Linked DNA regions of Homo sapiens. The protein of the gene in region 1 purifies or fractionates together with the protein of each later gene. This does not show direct contact. Each region holds a gene or a part of one and is shown in the gene's direction. Other genes may lie near its edges.

Evidence for each region. The genes of interacting proteins can lie anywhere in the genome.
Region 2: the proteins of TMEM59 (region 1) and MAN2A2 purify together in Homo sapiens (affinity purification with mass spectrometry; one large-scale study listed by BioGRID and IntAct). This does not show direct contact.
Region 3: the proteins of TMEM59 (region 1) and HS6ST1 purify together in Homo sapiens (affinity purification with mass spectrometry; one large-scale study listed by BioGRID and IntAct). This does not show direct contact.
Region 4: the proteins of TMEM59 (region 1) and CEP131 purify together in Homo sapiens (co-immunoprecipitation; 2 studies listed by BioGRID and IntAct, with this or other methods). This does not show direct contact.

What each region holds. Positions count from the first base shown.
Region 1 is NC_000001.11:54,032,705-54,036,204, reverse strand, and holds part of TMEM59 (transmembrane protein 59 isoform 2 precursor), read left to right. Parts: intron 1-3,500.
Region 2 is NC_000015.10:90,916,034-90,920,301, forward strand, and holds part of MAN2A2 (alpha-mannosidase 2x), read left to right. Parts: intron 1-89; coding exon 90-223; intron 224-552; coding exon of another isoform or gene 553-627; intron 628-2,160; coding exon 2,161-2,355; intron 2,356-2,611; coding exon 2,612-2,722; intron 2,723-3,601; coding exon 3,602-3,754; 3' UTR 3,755-4,268.
Region 3 is NC_000002.12:128,270,369-128,274,636, reverse strand, and holds part of HS6ST1 (heparan-sulfate 6-O-sulfotransferase 1), read left to right. Parts: intron 1-4,268. UniProt on the Homo sapiens protein: 6-O-sulfation enzyme which catalyzes the transfer of sulfate from 3'-phosphoadenosine 5'-phosphosulfate (PAPS) to position 6 of the N-sulfoglucosamine residue (GlcNS) of heparan sulfate.
Region 4 is NC_000017.11:81,189,096-81,192,733, reverse strand, and holds the end of CEP131 (centrosomal protein of 131 kDa), read left to right. Parts: intron 1-140; coding exon 141-258; intron 259-341; coding exon 342-416; intron 417-1,383; coding exon of another isoform or gene 1,384-1,398; coding exon 1,399-1,541; intron 1,542-1,649; coding exon 1,650-1,827; intron 1,828-1,931; coding exon 1,932-2,095; intron 2,096-2,758; coding exon 2,759-2,819; coding exon of another isoform or gene 2,820-2,890; coding exon 2,891-2,965; 3' UTR 2,966-3,138; downstream 3,139-3,638. UniProt on the Homo sapiens protein: Component of centriolar satellites contributing to the building of a complex and dynamic network required to regulate cilia/flagellum formation.

The sequences.
Region 1 (3,500 bases):
GGTTCAAGTGATTCTTCCTCAGCCTCCCGAGTAGCTGGGACTACAAGCATGCGCCACCATGTCCAGCTAATTTTTGTATATTCAGTAGAAATGGAGTTTCACCATATTGACCAGTCTGGTCCTGAACTCCTGATCTCAAGTGACCTGCCCACCTCTGCCTCCCAAAGTGTTGGGATTACAGGCGTGAGCCACCATACCCAGCCAGAGAGAAGACTTGTAGAACCACTTAATAGTTTAAATTAATTACCACAATATTAAGGATCAGTGCTGCTTTAGAAGCAGCAAGGCTGGGCCAGGTGTGGTGCTCATGCCTCTCTAATCCCAGCACTTTGGGAAGCCTAGGCAGGAGGATCACTTGAGCTCAAGAATTTGAGACCAGCCTGGGCAACATGATGAGATCCTGTCTCTATGAAAAATTATAAAAATTATCTGGGTATGGTGGTGCGTGCCCGTGATCCCAGCTACTTAGGAGGCTGAGGTGGGAGGATCACTTGAGCCCAGGAGGTTGAGGCTGCAGTGAGCCAGGATTGTGCCACTGTACTCCAGCCTGGTGACAGAACAAGACCCTGAGTCTCAAAAGAAAAGAAAAAAAAATGCTGGAGTGTTTGATTTTGAGTTGTTATATTCTGGTATCTAACCCCAAAAGAGATGGGAGACATTGTGACTTCCTTGGTAATTAAAATTTAACTGGCCCAAAAAATATAACTGTTAAGGTAAAGGATTTTTGTTTGGGGGAAAGGCTATAATTTAATTATTCAACTTAGCTTTCAAGAACAGAAAAGTATTTATATAACTAAATATAGAATAATAATGGCTGTCAACATCTAATCCAACTGAAATAAACTTTAGTTTTCTTATGCCTCCAAAGTACCATAGAAAAAGAGAAAAGACAGAAATTAGAATCTAATAATAAGCCATTGGCATGTGCCTAACATGGTGCCTGAACAACTGTCTTATCCTAATAGACTATAAAGATGTTTAAATATATGATTTGCACATGAAAAATGATTAAGATAATATTACACTTAATATTTTTATTAAGGTGATATAATTGATGTAGGTACCTGGAAACTGGGACAGGATAATGTTGATAACTAACATTTATATAGTCGTTAAAATTTACAAAGTATTTTCATGTATCTTCATATTCTTCCCATCTAACTGAAATGTTGTGTCCTTTAACCAACATCTCCTCAGTCTCCTACCTCCCTTCAGTGGCTTCTTTCATGTTGATGTATAAAATCAAACAGTTCCTGGTTGCTGCTTCAAGATCTTTAAATATTGTTAGGTAGAGTTGTGAACATTTTTCTTTCACAGTGCCCCAGAGCCAACGGTCACATGTGAATTCTGAGTTTTATGGAGGCCTGCTATATCAGATCCATCAGATCCACGTCCAACCCATCAACCACTGAACTTTCTTTTTTCTTTTTTTAGACAGGGTCTCGCACTGTCGCTGAGGCTGGAGTGCAATGGCACGATCTCAGCTCACTGCAATCTCCACCTCCCGGGTTCAAGCGATTCTTGTGTCTCAGCCTGCCGAGTGGCTGGGACTACAAGCGCACACCACCACACCCAGCTTATTTTTGTATTTTTAGTAGAGATGGGGTTTCACCATGTTGGCCAGGTTGGTCTCGAACTCCTGACCTCAAGTGATTCGCCTGCCTTAGCCTCCCAAAGTGCTGGGATTACAGGTGTGAGCCACTGCGCCTGGCCTGAACTTGTCTTAAAGCTACTCTCATACTGGAAAAGCTTAAGGTACTGGGGCACCTCCTTGCAGGATAGTTGTTCCCCTGAGGCAACCGTCCAGTAGAACACATCTGAAACATGTGTGAGTAAGCAACTATCGTGACAATCACTTTTAGAACATTTTCATCAGCCCAGAAAGAAAATCTATACTCTTAGTAATTGCTCCCCATTTTCTCCCAAGCAGCAGCAGCTGCACCACCCCTACCCCCATCTCACCCTCCAGCCCTAGATAGCCAATATGTAGTCTCTTGTGACTGGCCTCTTTGACTAAGCATATTTTCAAGGTTCATCATGTTATAGCATGTATCACTTTATCACTTTTTTTTTTTTTTTTTTTTTTGAGATGGAGTCTTGCTCTATCGCCCAGGCTAGAGTGCAGTGGTGCGATCTCGGCTCACTGCAAACCTCTGCCTCTCGGGTTCAAGCGATTCTCCTACCTCGGCCTCCCTAGTAGCTGGGACTACAGGCATGCACCACCACACCCAGCTAATTTTTGTATTTTTAGTAGAGATGGGGTTTCACCATGTTGGCCAGACTGGTCTGGAACGCCTGACCTCAGGTGATCCACCTTCCTCAGCCTCCCAAAGTGCTGGGATTACAGGCTTGAGCCACCACGCCCAGCCAGGATAGCATGTATCACTTTTGATAAACTCTTGAAGGTGCTCTTTATTCAGCATCTTTTAAAAACACCTTTCCAGTATCGGGTACTTCTGTGGAGTTCTTGCTTTATAATCTAGTCAGTTGTCCTGCCAGTGATATCAGCACTTCAGTTTCTAACTTTTGGATACAGGGATTTGTTGCCGTATGAGTAGATTAACAACAGAATCTATACCATTTTTTTTTTTTTTTTTTTTTGTGAGACAGAGTCTCACTCTGTCCCCCAGGCTGGAGGGCAGTGTCGCGATCTCACCCCACTGCAATCTCTGCCTCCCGGGCTCAAGTGATTCTTGTGCCTCAACCTCCTGAGTAGCTGGAATTACAGGCATGTACCACCATGCCTGGCTAATTTTTTGTATTTTTAGTGGAGACCGGGTTTCACCATGTTAGCCAGGCTGGTCTCGAGCTCCTGACCTGAAGTGATCCGCCCGCCTCAGCCTCCCAAAATGCTGGGATTACAGGCATGAGCCACCGCACCCAGCCTATGCCGTTTCTTAGTGGAGACTTTTCACTTTGCTTTTCTGCCTTTAAGAGATACATACGGACAGGCCTAGTGGCTCACACATGTATCCCAACACTTTGGGAGGCCAAGGTAGGAGGATCACTTGAGGCCAGGAGTCTGAGACCAGCCTAGGCAACATAGCAAGACCCCATCATTTAAAAAAAAAAAAGAAAGAAAAAAAAAAGAAAGAAAGAAAAAAGAAAAATTAGCTGGGCATGGTGGTGCATGCCTATAGTCCTAGCTACTCAGGAGGCTGAGGCAGGAGAATCACTTGAGCCCAGGAGTTCAAGGCCTAGTAGTGAGCTATGATCACACCACTGCACTCCAGCCTGGGTAACAGAACAAGACCCCGTCTCTTTAAAAAAAAAAAAAAAAGAGACAGAGACATTCATACATATATCTAAGTCTACCTACTCTCAAAAGATGCTAGATATTACTATTATTCTCCAATGAGTTTTATGACATTTGCAGTGATTCTGTTTTATGCTTTCATTCTTTTAGTGTCTTCTTGTATATGGTATTAACAATTAAGGAACTTTATATATTTATGAAGACCCTTCTATCAGTGTGAGAGCATTTCATGCATATTCTTTGT
Region 2 (4,268 bases), on another chromosome or scaffold:
TCAGGGCCTGTGGCTTGGGATTCTCCTTTGAAAGGTCAGTGCCTGCTTGGGGGTGGGGGCGGGCCAGCACTCACTGTTTGCTTCCCCAGGCCAGCTGGAGGTGATCTTGGACCGGCGGCTGATGCAGGATGACAACCGGGGCCTAGGCCAAGGGCTCAAGGACAACAAGAGAACCTGCAACCGTTTCCGCCTCCTGCTAGAGCGGCGAACCGTGGGCAGTGAGGTAACATCTGGGGCTGACGCCCAGGGAGCCAGGTCTGGCTAGTCCCTGGGGGTGGCCGGGGGGTCCAGCCTAGGGCTCGAGGAGCGTAGTTGGAGGTGGGCAAGAGAGAGAGAGTAGGGCTGAATTCCTGGGGTGGGGGGAGGCAGTCTGGCGTTTTGTGTCCCATCTCACGCAGCCTGGCACCTTCCTCTCCCAGCAGCGCTCTGTCACCTGTGCCCCTCATGTTCGTCTCCCACTTTCCTCTGTGCTGCCCTCCTCTGCCCTGTCCCAGCATTCTCTAAGCCTGTGCTCCAACCCCGCTCATCTCATGGCTTTCTTTGCCCCACCAGCCTGACTTTTTCTCCAAACTGGCAGCCATGTTTAGGGGCTTGATCTTTCACAGCAGCAGGAGCGGTAACCGAGAGGTAAGGGTCGGCTCTGGGAGCGGGGAACTAGTACGAGCAAGGTGTAGCTGCGCCAGAGCCCAGGTGACAGAGCCCGCCACTCAGTCACTCGTGCATCAGATAGATATTGAGCACCTGCTTTACTGTGAGGACCCAGAGGGACATAAGTGCAGACAGTGCTGACTCTCCCAGGAGTTTACTCGTGAGTAGGGGTGGCAGAGAAGCCATGTGTGTAAAAATGCAAGGTAGAAAGGGCTTTGTCTCACTGATCCTGAGGAGCAAGGTAATAATGTGGGCTAAGGAGATCGAGGTCAAGGAGGTGTCACCCAGGTGTGGCTTTGATGAATGGGGTGTGATTTGAAGATATGAACCAGGGCACAGGATAGGAGGCAGGAAAGACAACAGGCTGGGGAATAGCAGTGAGTTCCTTAGTTATGCTGGAGCTATGCTATCCAGTACGGTGGCCAGTAGCCCTATATGGCTATTTAAATTACAACTAAATCAAGTAAAAAATTTGCTTTCTTATTCCTACTGACCACACTTCAAGTACTCAAGTGGCTAAGTGGCTGCCGTATTAGACCATGTGGTGTCGGATATTTCCATCCTTGCAGAATGCCCTCTTGGCTGGTGCTGGGCTAGAGTGCTAGGGGGAGATCAGGGCAGACGGCAGAGCACCTTGAGTGCCTGCTAAGGGATCTGGACTTTATCCTGGCTAGGAAAGGTCCAGGCTAAGGAAAGAGCTGAGCAAGGAGGGACACCGTCAGAACTCTGGTCTCAGCATGTCACGCTGACAGTACGGAGCAGGTTGGATCTGTGGGAAGGGAGACTGGAGGAGGGTGACAGCGGGAGGCTGTTCAGGCAGGACATGCTGGCTGCTTGAACTAGGCCAGAGGCTGGAGAAGTTGCCGGTGGCTATGAGGACACTGCCCAGGTGCGACGGAAGAGGGTTTAGCATTACCTGGGAATGCAGAGGGAAGTGAGAGATGCTGGGCGCTTGGAAGAAGGGGGATGCCAGGGACAGAAGTCCAGAATATTCAGCCCAGGCCTGTGAGTCTGACGTCCAGGTGAGCTGCTAAGGAGTAGCCCTGCTGGCAGAGCCCCGGCCGCGCTGGGCCTGAGAGCCAGGCTGGCACTGTGGATGTGGCATCGCTCGTGAAGCCGCAGATTACCCAGAGCACTCTGGATTGGAGGTCCGTGCTCCATGGTGAGGCCTGCGTCTGCCTGGCTGCCATCCTCCCTGCACTGTGGATCCATGTGTGAGGGGAGACATGGCTGATGGGAGTGGGTTGCTCATGATAGTGTTATGTGAGCAAGGAACTAAAAAGTAGAGAAGAAACAGCTTAGTGAAGTAGCCCTCTGCGTTAGGGGAGACGGCAAATGTCCACACTTGAAGGGTTAGCGGAACCTCGCCTGGAGCCAGGCGTGCCCTTGAGTCCAGGCACACCAGGAAAGGTCTTTCCAAAACAACTGACCTGGGTGTGCTTTTATCCTGCCTCGTCCTCTCCCCTCAGCCTGGCTTTGGTCCCTCACCAATATCTCGGGTCAATTTTGCAGGTCCAAGATAGCCACTCTACCAGCTACCCATCCCTCCTCAGCCACCTGACCTCCATGTACCTGAACGCCCCGGCGCTCGCTCTGCCTGTAGCCAGGATGCAGCTCCCAGGCCCTGGTCTGCGCTCATTTCATCCTCTGGCTTCCTCACTGCCCTGTGACTTCCACCTGCTCAACCTACGTACGCTCCAGGCTGAGGTGAGTGTCCCTCAGCGTGACATGCTGAGAGCAGAGTTCTGATGGTGTCCCTCCCTGCTCAGCTCCTTCCTTAGCCTCCAGGATGAGGTCCAGACCCCTTAGCAGGTATTCGGCTCCAAACCTCCAGGACCAGGTTTTGGCCTTTCCTTACCCACACGCCTCCCTGTGCCAGCACTGCCTCTGGGCAGAGGCGCTGCTGCATCTCCGATCTCTGAAAGCCCTGCGCCCACTTCCCTGGGCACTGTCTGTCATCCAGGAGGACACCCTACCCTCGGCGGAGACCGCACTCATCTTACACCGCAAGGGTTTTGACTGCGGCCTGGAGGCCAAGAACTTGGGCTTCAACTGCACCACAAGCCAAGGCAAGGTGAGTAGGGTGGGGAAACAGAGCACCTAGGAATGGCAGGCATGAGCTTGGTAAGACTGGGCTGAGATTCGGTGACAGGCTGGGAGAAGAAAGTGTCACTCCAGGGCTTTCTGGAGAGAAGGGGGGAAGCTGTAGACATGTTTTCAGAGCTCCGGAGGCCTGGCAGGGGGAGTTCCAGACAAGGTAGATCGCTTGAGAACTTTTGTTCCCTGAGCAGGGACCTCTATCAAGCAAAGTGGAAAACACCAGAAATAGAAAACCAGAACCCATCCTGTTGTTACTTTGTAAGCTCATATCAGCCGGCACTGATAAATGTCCCCGGGTGCCAGGTCCTCTGCTGGGCTCCAGTGTTTCAGAAGTGAACCAAGACATGGTCACTGTTTTCACAGAGCTCACAGCTCAGTGGAACGGTTCTTACCCAGAGATCTGTAGGCAGGCTTTAGGGTTGAGCAAATCTCAGCAAGCCCGTGAGACTGGATGCACACTCATGTGTAAGAAGGCATGGTGTTGCTGAGAGGGGCCAGCCGGAACTGGAGTGCAGTGGCGTGATCGCAGCTCACTGCAACCCCCGCCTCCTGGTTCAAGTGATCCTCCTGCCTCAGCCTCCCGAGTAGCTGGGATTACAGGCGCCTGCCCCCACGCCCAGCTAATTTTTATATTGTTAGTAGAGACGGGGTTTCGCCATGTTGGCCAGGCTGGTCTCGAACTCCTGACCTCAGGTGATCCACCCGCCTTGGCCTCCCAAAGTGCTGGGATTACAGGTGTGAGCCACTGCCCCTGGCTGAGATTCTTAAAGAGGTACCAAATTGTAGATGAACAGCCACATTCTTTAGTGTCTCGGCACCTAGCACAACCCTGCCCCTTCTCTGCTCTCCACAGGTAGCCCTGGGCAGCCTTTTCCATGGCCTGGATGTGGTATTCCTTCAGCCAACCTCCTTGACGTTACTGTACCCTCTGGCCTCCCCGTCCAACAGCACTGACGTCTATTTGGAGCCCATGGAGATTGCTACCTTTCGCCTCCGCTTGGGTTAGGGCTTCTTGTGGCCTGAAGAGAAAGTTCATTCACAGAGACTGCCTCTTAACATGAAGATCATTGGACAAGCCACACGGGTATCCCATCCCGATCTGCCTCCCAGAACTGTGACACACTGGGCTCTGCCCTCATTTTCTGTTTATTGCTGCTGCTGTGTTTTCGGCGCAACCCACAAACCCAGTGATGGGTAAATAGGGCAGACGCCAGTGAGATCAGGGAGAGAAGGCCCTTGGTCAGAGTGGGCAGTGCCAGGCTCTGCTTTGGGTTGTGAGTGGACACCCAACTGGGCACAGGCTCAGGCACCCATCCTTTTTCCAAACAGGGATATAGAAGTGGTGGAAGCAGACAGAAGAGGTAAGGGAGGCTAAGTGGGTAACAGCCCAGCATCAGGGTCACTGTGGCAACAGCAGGCTCTAGGGGAATCCTGTGGTTATGTAGAGACTCCATGTCCTGGTGTGATGAGCAGGATCAGAGTGACTCTGGGAGGACAGGGGTGGGGACCCAGAGTTAGCA
Region 3 (4,268 bases), on another chromosome or scaffold:
TTTTGCTGACATCCTGGAACCGTCCCCTGGGTTGGAGCTCCTGGCTTCCAAGTTTGTTTGTTTGTTTGTTTGTTCTGTTTTTTCTTTTCCTTTTTTGCTAAATGAGATGCCTACTCCAGGATCTTCCTAAAATAAGATTCACAGAAGGTAAATTTCCTAAGTCTTTGTATGTCTGAACACATCTCTACTGTCCATACTTGATTGATAGTTTGGCTGGGTATGAGATTGGTCATTTTCCTTCTGCCTTTTGAAGACCGTGCTCCAATGGTTTCTAACATACGGCGTTGCAATGGAGAAGCATGCCATTTATGTATTGTTTTTTTTGTCCAGATGCTTCAAGGGTCAACTTTTTAGTCCTCTGTTCATTCCCCACATTCATTTGCTCGGCACTTGGTCAGCCATTTCAGTCTCCGTGAATGATGTACTCCAATTCTGGTTATTTCTGTCATCATCTCCTCTATTTTCTCTCTCCCCTCTTTCTGGAAGCCTTGCTGGCAGGCACTTGGAGCACCTGAATGGATAGACCCTGCTGGATAGTGATAGGCACAAAGCCCCTGCTTTGTGGGGTCCCAGGTGTCAGTGCAGGGAAGACTGCTCTGGGGCACAGACCCTTCAGCAGGGGGTGCGAGGCAGGGATTAGATGAGCCTGGGCTCCTGAGGGCAGGGGCTGGGGACCACCGTGAGTGTGCAGACCATTCCTCAAACCTCTGAGCCATGAGCCGCCCCCTTGGCACCTCCAGAGAGCACATGTCAGAGAGCTGCCTAGATCTGGGGTGGGCCATTTGGGGAGTCCTCTGCACCTCGCCACACCCCGCCCTCTTCCTGCTTCTGTTTGACACCTCCACCCCGCCTTTTGGCAGATGACAGACTGGAGAGTAAACAGCAGATGCGTCTGGCAACGCATGCAATGGAGGAAAGAGGACGGAGCACAGGAGGTGGGACAGGGCAAGGCGCAGCTGGGGCACCAGACCAGAGGATGGCCAGGACGTGCCTGTGGCCAGCAGTGCCTGCAGTGTTTGGCAGAGGGAAGGGGACAAGGCAGAGGGGAGGGGAGGGCTCTGCGTGTTGGGCATGGGACTGGACGCCTCTGGCTCCTAAAGAGTCCCACCGGCTATGGAGGGGCGTGCCAGGTAGTGGCTTCCATACCGTTCAGGCAGGTGTAGGTAGGAACTGGACGGTGGCCAAGGGCAGGTCACCCTGCCTGGATCAGCTGTCACATCTGCAGAAAGGGGCAGGAACACCCACATTTGGCTGCTGGCCTCACAGGCAGCTTCTAGAGTCTGGCTGGCCCTTTGTCTATACCACAGGCCGTGTCTAGGGGACAGAACAAGGGGACCCAGGGCATGGCAATGTTCTGAGCAGAGAAGGTGCACAGGGAGCCGTGGGGACAGCGTAAGCCATTGGGCCTTAGGGCAGGGGCCTCGGTCAGCTCCTAAGGCTCCCCCAGGTGCAGTGTCCGTTGCGCCATTTTATTACAAGACGCAGAGCCGCTGGGCCAGCACTGCTAATATCTTTGAACACACCCGCCTCCCTGGTGTGGTTCCCCAGCAGCTGTCCCTGCAGCGGGAGGCCTTGGTCCAGAAGGGTTATGTGGGACATGGGCGCAGGAAGGACAGGTGAGGCTGACAGGCTTGGTCATTCCAGGGACCATGAGGGCTTTCGCTGGCTCAGGTGCCCCTTTCCCCTGCCGTTGCCCCTGTTGGTGCCTGCTAGACCTCCTGTGCACAGAAGGCCTTGGCAGAGGAGAGAGCCAGGCCTGGGGCAGTAAAGGAGAAAGCTTCCCCTCCAGTCCTCTGAGGGCCCCGGACTTAGATGGCTTTCAAATGAGTGTCTGTCTTCAGCAGCTCACCCTCCCAGCTTTTTCAGAAACCAAAGAGTAAATTGCTCACGGCTTCTCTAAGTGGCTCACACACAAAAAACCCGAGTCATTTCAATGGCTGGACCCAGAAAATCGAGCCCTCTTCTCTCCTCCCTGTCTCTGGCCCCCAACTCTGCCTCAGTTGCCCTGGGGTCTCACTGTCCCCTCAAGACACTGCCCCTGCAGGCGCAGGCAGAGAGGCCTTTGTTCCCCTCAGCTGTGTCCCCTCAGCTGTGTAGAGAGGATGCTGCCGTCGGACACGTGGTAACTGAGCCTGCTGCCACCCCCACCCGTGATGGTCAGTAGGTCGCGTGCCATCTGGGGCTACTAGAGCCGGCCCACTGTGCATACTACATGTGCCTGCTGGGTGCTCTGGGCTCTTCTCGCACTCCTGCACTGGCAACCGCTTATCTTTTTGAGCTGGGTCTTAAAGGTGGAGAGGTCTGACCAAGGGGCGGTCACTCACACTGGCATTCCAGTGAAGGGCATGGCCCATGCAGAGACCAGGGGTGATATACCCGTGTCCTCCTACCTGCAGACCGTGACGGTGCTGGGGAGGGGAGGGGGCACCAGGCCACATCGGGAGGGCAGCAGGTAGACGCTCCAGCCCCTCCACGGCAGAGGCCCTGAGCTTTGCAGGGGTGAGGAGGCTGTCATTCAGAAACGTCGCTGCCAGGGAGAAGGGACTTAGAGAAGGGAGCCTTGTGGCTGTGGCCCATGGCTGCCCTCACCACCAGGCTCCTGCCTTCAGGTGGCCAGGGGCCATCTGAACGCCCAGGGGACCTGGGTATGGGGTTGGTGTAGACCATGTCTTGGCCCTTCCCAAGGTGCCGGCTTCACCTCCATCCCTCTGTGCTCTGGTGCTGACCTGGCATTTGCAGTTATGTGCCCTAGTGGCAGCCGCTCGAGCTTGGCTGCCAAGACCCACGGTGTGGTCAGACCACTGTGTGCGGCTGAGGAATGAGTTCCTCCCAGGAGGGGAAAGCCCTCGGGTCAATCGGGGCCCTCGTGCCCACCCGTCACTGCAGGCCAGGATCGTGGCAGGTGGCAACCCCAGCTTTGAGTGCTGCGTCTTCTGGGGCTGCAGCCGCCCACTGTGAGCAGGAGGGTGAGGGCAGGTAGAGTCTGTCCTGCCATGAAGCTGGAGGCTTTGACAGCAGGGGCGGACAGAACTGAGCAGAAACACTTCACAGCCTGGCCACGAGCTCCCCGCTTTGTGCTCCCTCCCTCGCATTTCCCCGTGTTCTGCACCCCCAGAGCTGAGGAGCCAGGGCCCTTGTCCAGGAACAGGCTGGATCGAGGCCTGGTGCCTGCATGCATTCCCAGGTGGGAGCCAGGCAGGTGACCCGGACCCTCCACCAGCCCAGAAGCAGCCCTTCCACCGAGGGGCCTCACACCACTTCTGCCTGCTCCCTCAGTCATTAGGCCCAGCGCTGGCTAGGTGGCTCCAGACATGACCAGCAGGCTCTAAGGCTCATCAGCGTCTTCTGGAGCCTGCACGATACACACACAGGCACAGGCTACACCATGGGAGACCCCATCTGCAGGGTGCCAAGCCCTTGCATGCTTGGGCCTCTGACGGGATCTGTCCCCGCTGCTAACCAGGCACAGGGCAGCTTGCTCTGCAGGTCTTCCAGTCAGCTAGCACAGACCCTGGCCAGTGTCATGACTCTGTGGCCCTGGGCAAGTCACACACCCTCTCTGGGCCATGGGCAGAGGAGCTCATGATGGAGGCATGCCTTGGGCTTCAGGGGATGGTCCCTGAATGGGTGTGGGGCTGGGGCTGAAGGACCCGCCTGTGGGCTGGGGCGCTGAAAATGGGAGAGGAACTGAGCCATTTGTGTTTCCCAGATGGGGCCTGCTGCACTGTGCACAGCGTGTCCTTGCCCTCAGAGTCACCCTTGGGGCCAGAGTCCTTGTGGCTGTAACTCACAGGGTCATTGGCTGGGGCTAGGAGGGCAAGCTTCTCTGTTGGTGGACACATCACACTGTGGTTTTTTGTGTTCAGAAGAAACCTGCCACACTGGCCTGTCTCCATCCATTTGGTCACGGCCCCACAGGAGTGGGGAGCGGAGGTCCATGCGGCCCTATGCCTCCCCTGGACACAGGGTCAGCTAGGAAGGATATGGATAGCCTCTTCTGAGCAGTCAGGGCCTCGTGAGCCTGAGGCAGGAGACAGAAGCCTGCCCCGGCCGCCTCGGGCCCTTACTCCCTGGCCCTTGGTCATTATTGTTTCTAAAACGTTTGTCTCACCTGCTACCTGAAGAAGGTCCCGCCCTCTGGCCCTTGAGGCCCCGAGTGCCCAGGAGCTGCTGCCATCAGCATGGATGGGTGGTACCAGGCAGGCTGTGGGTGCAGGGTGCTTGGGGAGGGCCAGGTGTGCCTTGGGACGTGTGAAGTGGGAGCCTGG
Region 4 (3,638 bases), on another chromosome or scaffold:
GCCGCCCGGGGGCACCACGCCCTCTCCCAGGGACCCCTCGCTGGCTGACCCCTCCCCCCCGCCCCCTCACCCGCTGACCTCTCCCATCCCTGACTCCTTACTCGATGACCCCTCACCTGCTGACTCCTCCCTGGCCGCAGGCAGCGGGCGGAGCTGGAAGAGCTGAGGCAGCAGCTGGAGGAGAGCAGCTCTGCACTGACCCGAGCCCTGAGGGCTGAGTTTGAGAAGGGCAGGGAGGAGCAGGAGCGCCGGCACCAGGTCTACCACCGGAGGGCTGTGCTGGGCCTGGCCAGGGGGCTGCACGGGGTGGGACTGACTGGCCTCTTATGTCCGCCCCCCAGATGGAGCTGAATACCCTGAAGCAGCAGCTGGAGCTGGAGAGGCAGGCGTGGGAGGCCGGCCGCACCAGGAAGGAGGTGGGGGCCTGGGCACCCAGGTGGGCAGGGGTTGGGGGCTGCCCTGCGTGGGCAGGAGTTGGGGGCTGCCCCAGGTGGGTTTTGCTGCTGCTGTGGCATCCTGGGGGCTCGTTTCTGGGAGTCACATCTGGCTGCTTGGGGTTGTTGTCTGAACTGACGCTGAGTGTGTTGCTTTCAGCCCATCTTTTGCGTGGGCTCTGGAAGGATCAAGGGTGCCTGGAGCGCATCCTCTGTGGTCCGAGAACAGGCGTTGCCCCTCTCGCTAGGGGCTGCTACACCCCTGCGCCCCACGACCAGCCCACTGACACTCAGATGTACCGAGAGGGACACGCACAACAGGGGCTCCCCCCTTAGCCTCTGGGGCCTTCTGTGGGGGGTGGACTCTGCCACGGTGACAGTCCCACACACATTCTCACCACCCATGCCCGCCGCGAGGCTACAGTCCAGGCTGACCGTGCCCGTCACCTGGTTTCACACCCTGGTGGGCTGGGATGTCACCGAGCAGCCAGGCAGGCTTTGGCAGTGGATGCCTCTGGGCCCAGTAGCATGCTCCCGACGTAGCCCTGTGGGGCCCAGGGCTGGACAGATGAAACTCTGGGAGTTTTCAGAGGCTTCCAGGAGGCTGCCAGCTTAGGCTCTGAATGCCTGGGCTTGGGGGCCCAGGCCCCGCCCTCAGCAACACGCAAGTCCAACTTTCCCATCCCATCTGGTAGCAGAAGGTGGCCTCAGGTTGTCATGGGCTGTGGGTCTCTGAGGGAGGGGACCGTGGGCTGTGCATCATGACGATCTCTGGTACGCCTATGCCCACACTGGGTCCTGACAACAGGACGTAGCGCACCCCTGGACAGGGGTCTGGAGAGGGGGAAGGCCCCTTGCTCCCCTGTGGCTCAGAGCCTGGAGCCCCCCAGGACCCCCTGAGGCTGGCCCTGGCCCCGCGGGCCGGCTCCGGGTGGCAACCCCCAGGCAGCGCATGTCCCCCCAGGAGGCGTGGCTGCTGAACCGGGAACAGGAGCTGAGGGAAGAAATCCGGAAAGGCCGGGACAAGGAGATTGAGCTGGTCATTCACCGGCTGGAGGCCGACATGGCGCTGGCCAAGGAGGAGAGTGAGAAGGCTGCCGAGAGCCGGTAAGGACCCGCCATGGCTGGGTCACCAGCTGGGGAGGCCCACGAGCTGAGGCGCAAGGACCCGTGTGTGACTGGGCTGGAGTGACCCTGCCCTCCCCCCACCTCCAGCATCAAGCGCTTACGGGACAAGTACGAGGCCGAGCTCTCCGAGCTGGAGCAGTCGGAGCGGAAGCTTCAGGAGCGGTGCTCGGAGCTGAAGGGCCAGCTTGGGGAGGCCGAGGGCGAGAATCTGCGTCTGCAGGGCCTTGTGCGGCAGAAGGAGCGGGCGCTGGAGGATGCGCAGGCGGTGAGTGGGCGGGTGTCAGGTGGGCAGTGGGCACCCACAGGCCCCTCCTGCATGCACGCAGCCAGTCGCTGGCAGCCGGCTCACTGCCTTCTGTGCCCACCCAGGTGAACGAGCAGCTTTCTAGCGAGCGCAGCAACCTGGCCCAGGTGATCCGCCAGGAGTTCGAGGACCGGCTGGCAGCCTCTGAGGAGGAGACGCGGCAGGCCAAGGCCGAGCTGGCCACGCTGCAGGCCCGCCAGCAGCTGGAGCTGGAGGAGGTGCACCGGAGGTGGGCGGCGGGGGCTGCAGGGCTGGAGACGGAGGCGGGGCAGGGGAGCGGGCAGGACCTCTGCAGCTCCAAGCCCCAGGAGGCTGTGGCTGAGGAAGGCCAGGAGATGCAGAGACAGGGCCCTGTAGACAGAGGCTGGTGTGGGTTCCATGTTTGGGGCCCAGGAGACCTAGATCTGTTTTCCTCCCTGGTGCTTAGTCTAGGGTGTCGGCCATCCCTGTTGGGGCACCCGAGTGGGTCGGGTCTGGGCCTGGCGAGTTCTCCAGGGAGTCAGCTCCCGGGGCCCTGGGCTGGGTGGACAGGCGCTGAAAGAGCTGGGGCACTGTAAGGTTCCCAGCGAGCTCCCTCCACGGGGGTCCTGCATCCTTCCTGTGCCATCTGCTGCCACAGGCTGAGAGGTGGGTGTGGGCGAGGTGTCCCACCCCATCTGGGTACCAGGCCTCCCCAGGTGTGGCCAGGGTCATACTCCAGTGGCCTGTGTTGGGTCCTGACTCACAGCAGGTGGGTTGCCTGGACAGCTGTCTGGGCCAGCCACAGGAGTCGTGGTCAGCAGGGCTGGGACCAGGCTGACCAGGCGGCTGCCCCGTGCACCCTGTGCACTGCAGGCCACTCTGGGGACATGGGGCGGGGGCCACACTGAAGCCTACCATGTACTACCCACAGGGTGAAGACAGCCCTCGCGAGGAAGGAGGAGGCCGTGAGCAGCCTCCGGACACAACATGAGGTGAGTCCCTGTGGCCAGCCCTGCTGGACCTCGGGGCTGGGAGCAGGCCTGACCCTGTGGGTGTGCTGCAGGCTGCGGTGAAGCGGGCCGACCACCTGGAGGAGCTGCTGGAGCAGCACAGGAGGCCCACGCCAAGTACCAAGTGACCAGGGATGCCGGGAACACTGTCGAAGAACGGAAGGCAGAGGACAGAGGCTGGACGTGGGCCCAGAGGCCCACAGGGACGCCCACCTGCCCCCCACAGAGGCTGGTGGTTGAGATGCCCACGGCTAAGCACCTGTGGCTGCATTTTAACAGTAAAGGAGGCCGTTGTTTTCAGCGCCTTGAGTGACTGCCTTGTCTTCTCTCCTGGGCTAGAGGCTGCCCAAGACCCCCAGAGCAGCCAGGCGTGGGTTTGGCTCTCTTCCTCCCACTCCCCTCCGCAGCCTGAGCAGGCTGACCAGGAAATCACGAAGCTTGGCCATCAGCCCCCCAGCTAGCAGCCCTCAACACTCAGCCAGCAGCCCCCAGCACTCAGCCAGCAGCCCCCCTGCACTCAGCCCTCAGCTCCCCAGCATTCAACCCAACCCCCAAGTTCCTGTTCCCTGCCTTGCCCTGGACCCTGGAAGTCCCAAGCACAGGGAATTCCCTACCCCGTTCCTGGCCAGGCGCAGGAGGAACTCAGCAGAACTCACCCCCTGGGAGGAGCTCCGAGGGCCCCGCCGTGGCCCTGCAGGTGCTGGAAGCCCATGGCTGCCAGCGTGCTCCTATGGCTGGAGAGACTCCAGAGGGACAGGAAGCCCTACCCTCCCCGCTGTCAAGGTGTGACAGTCTGGAGCT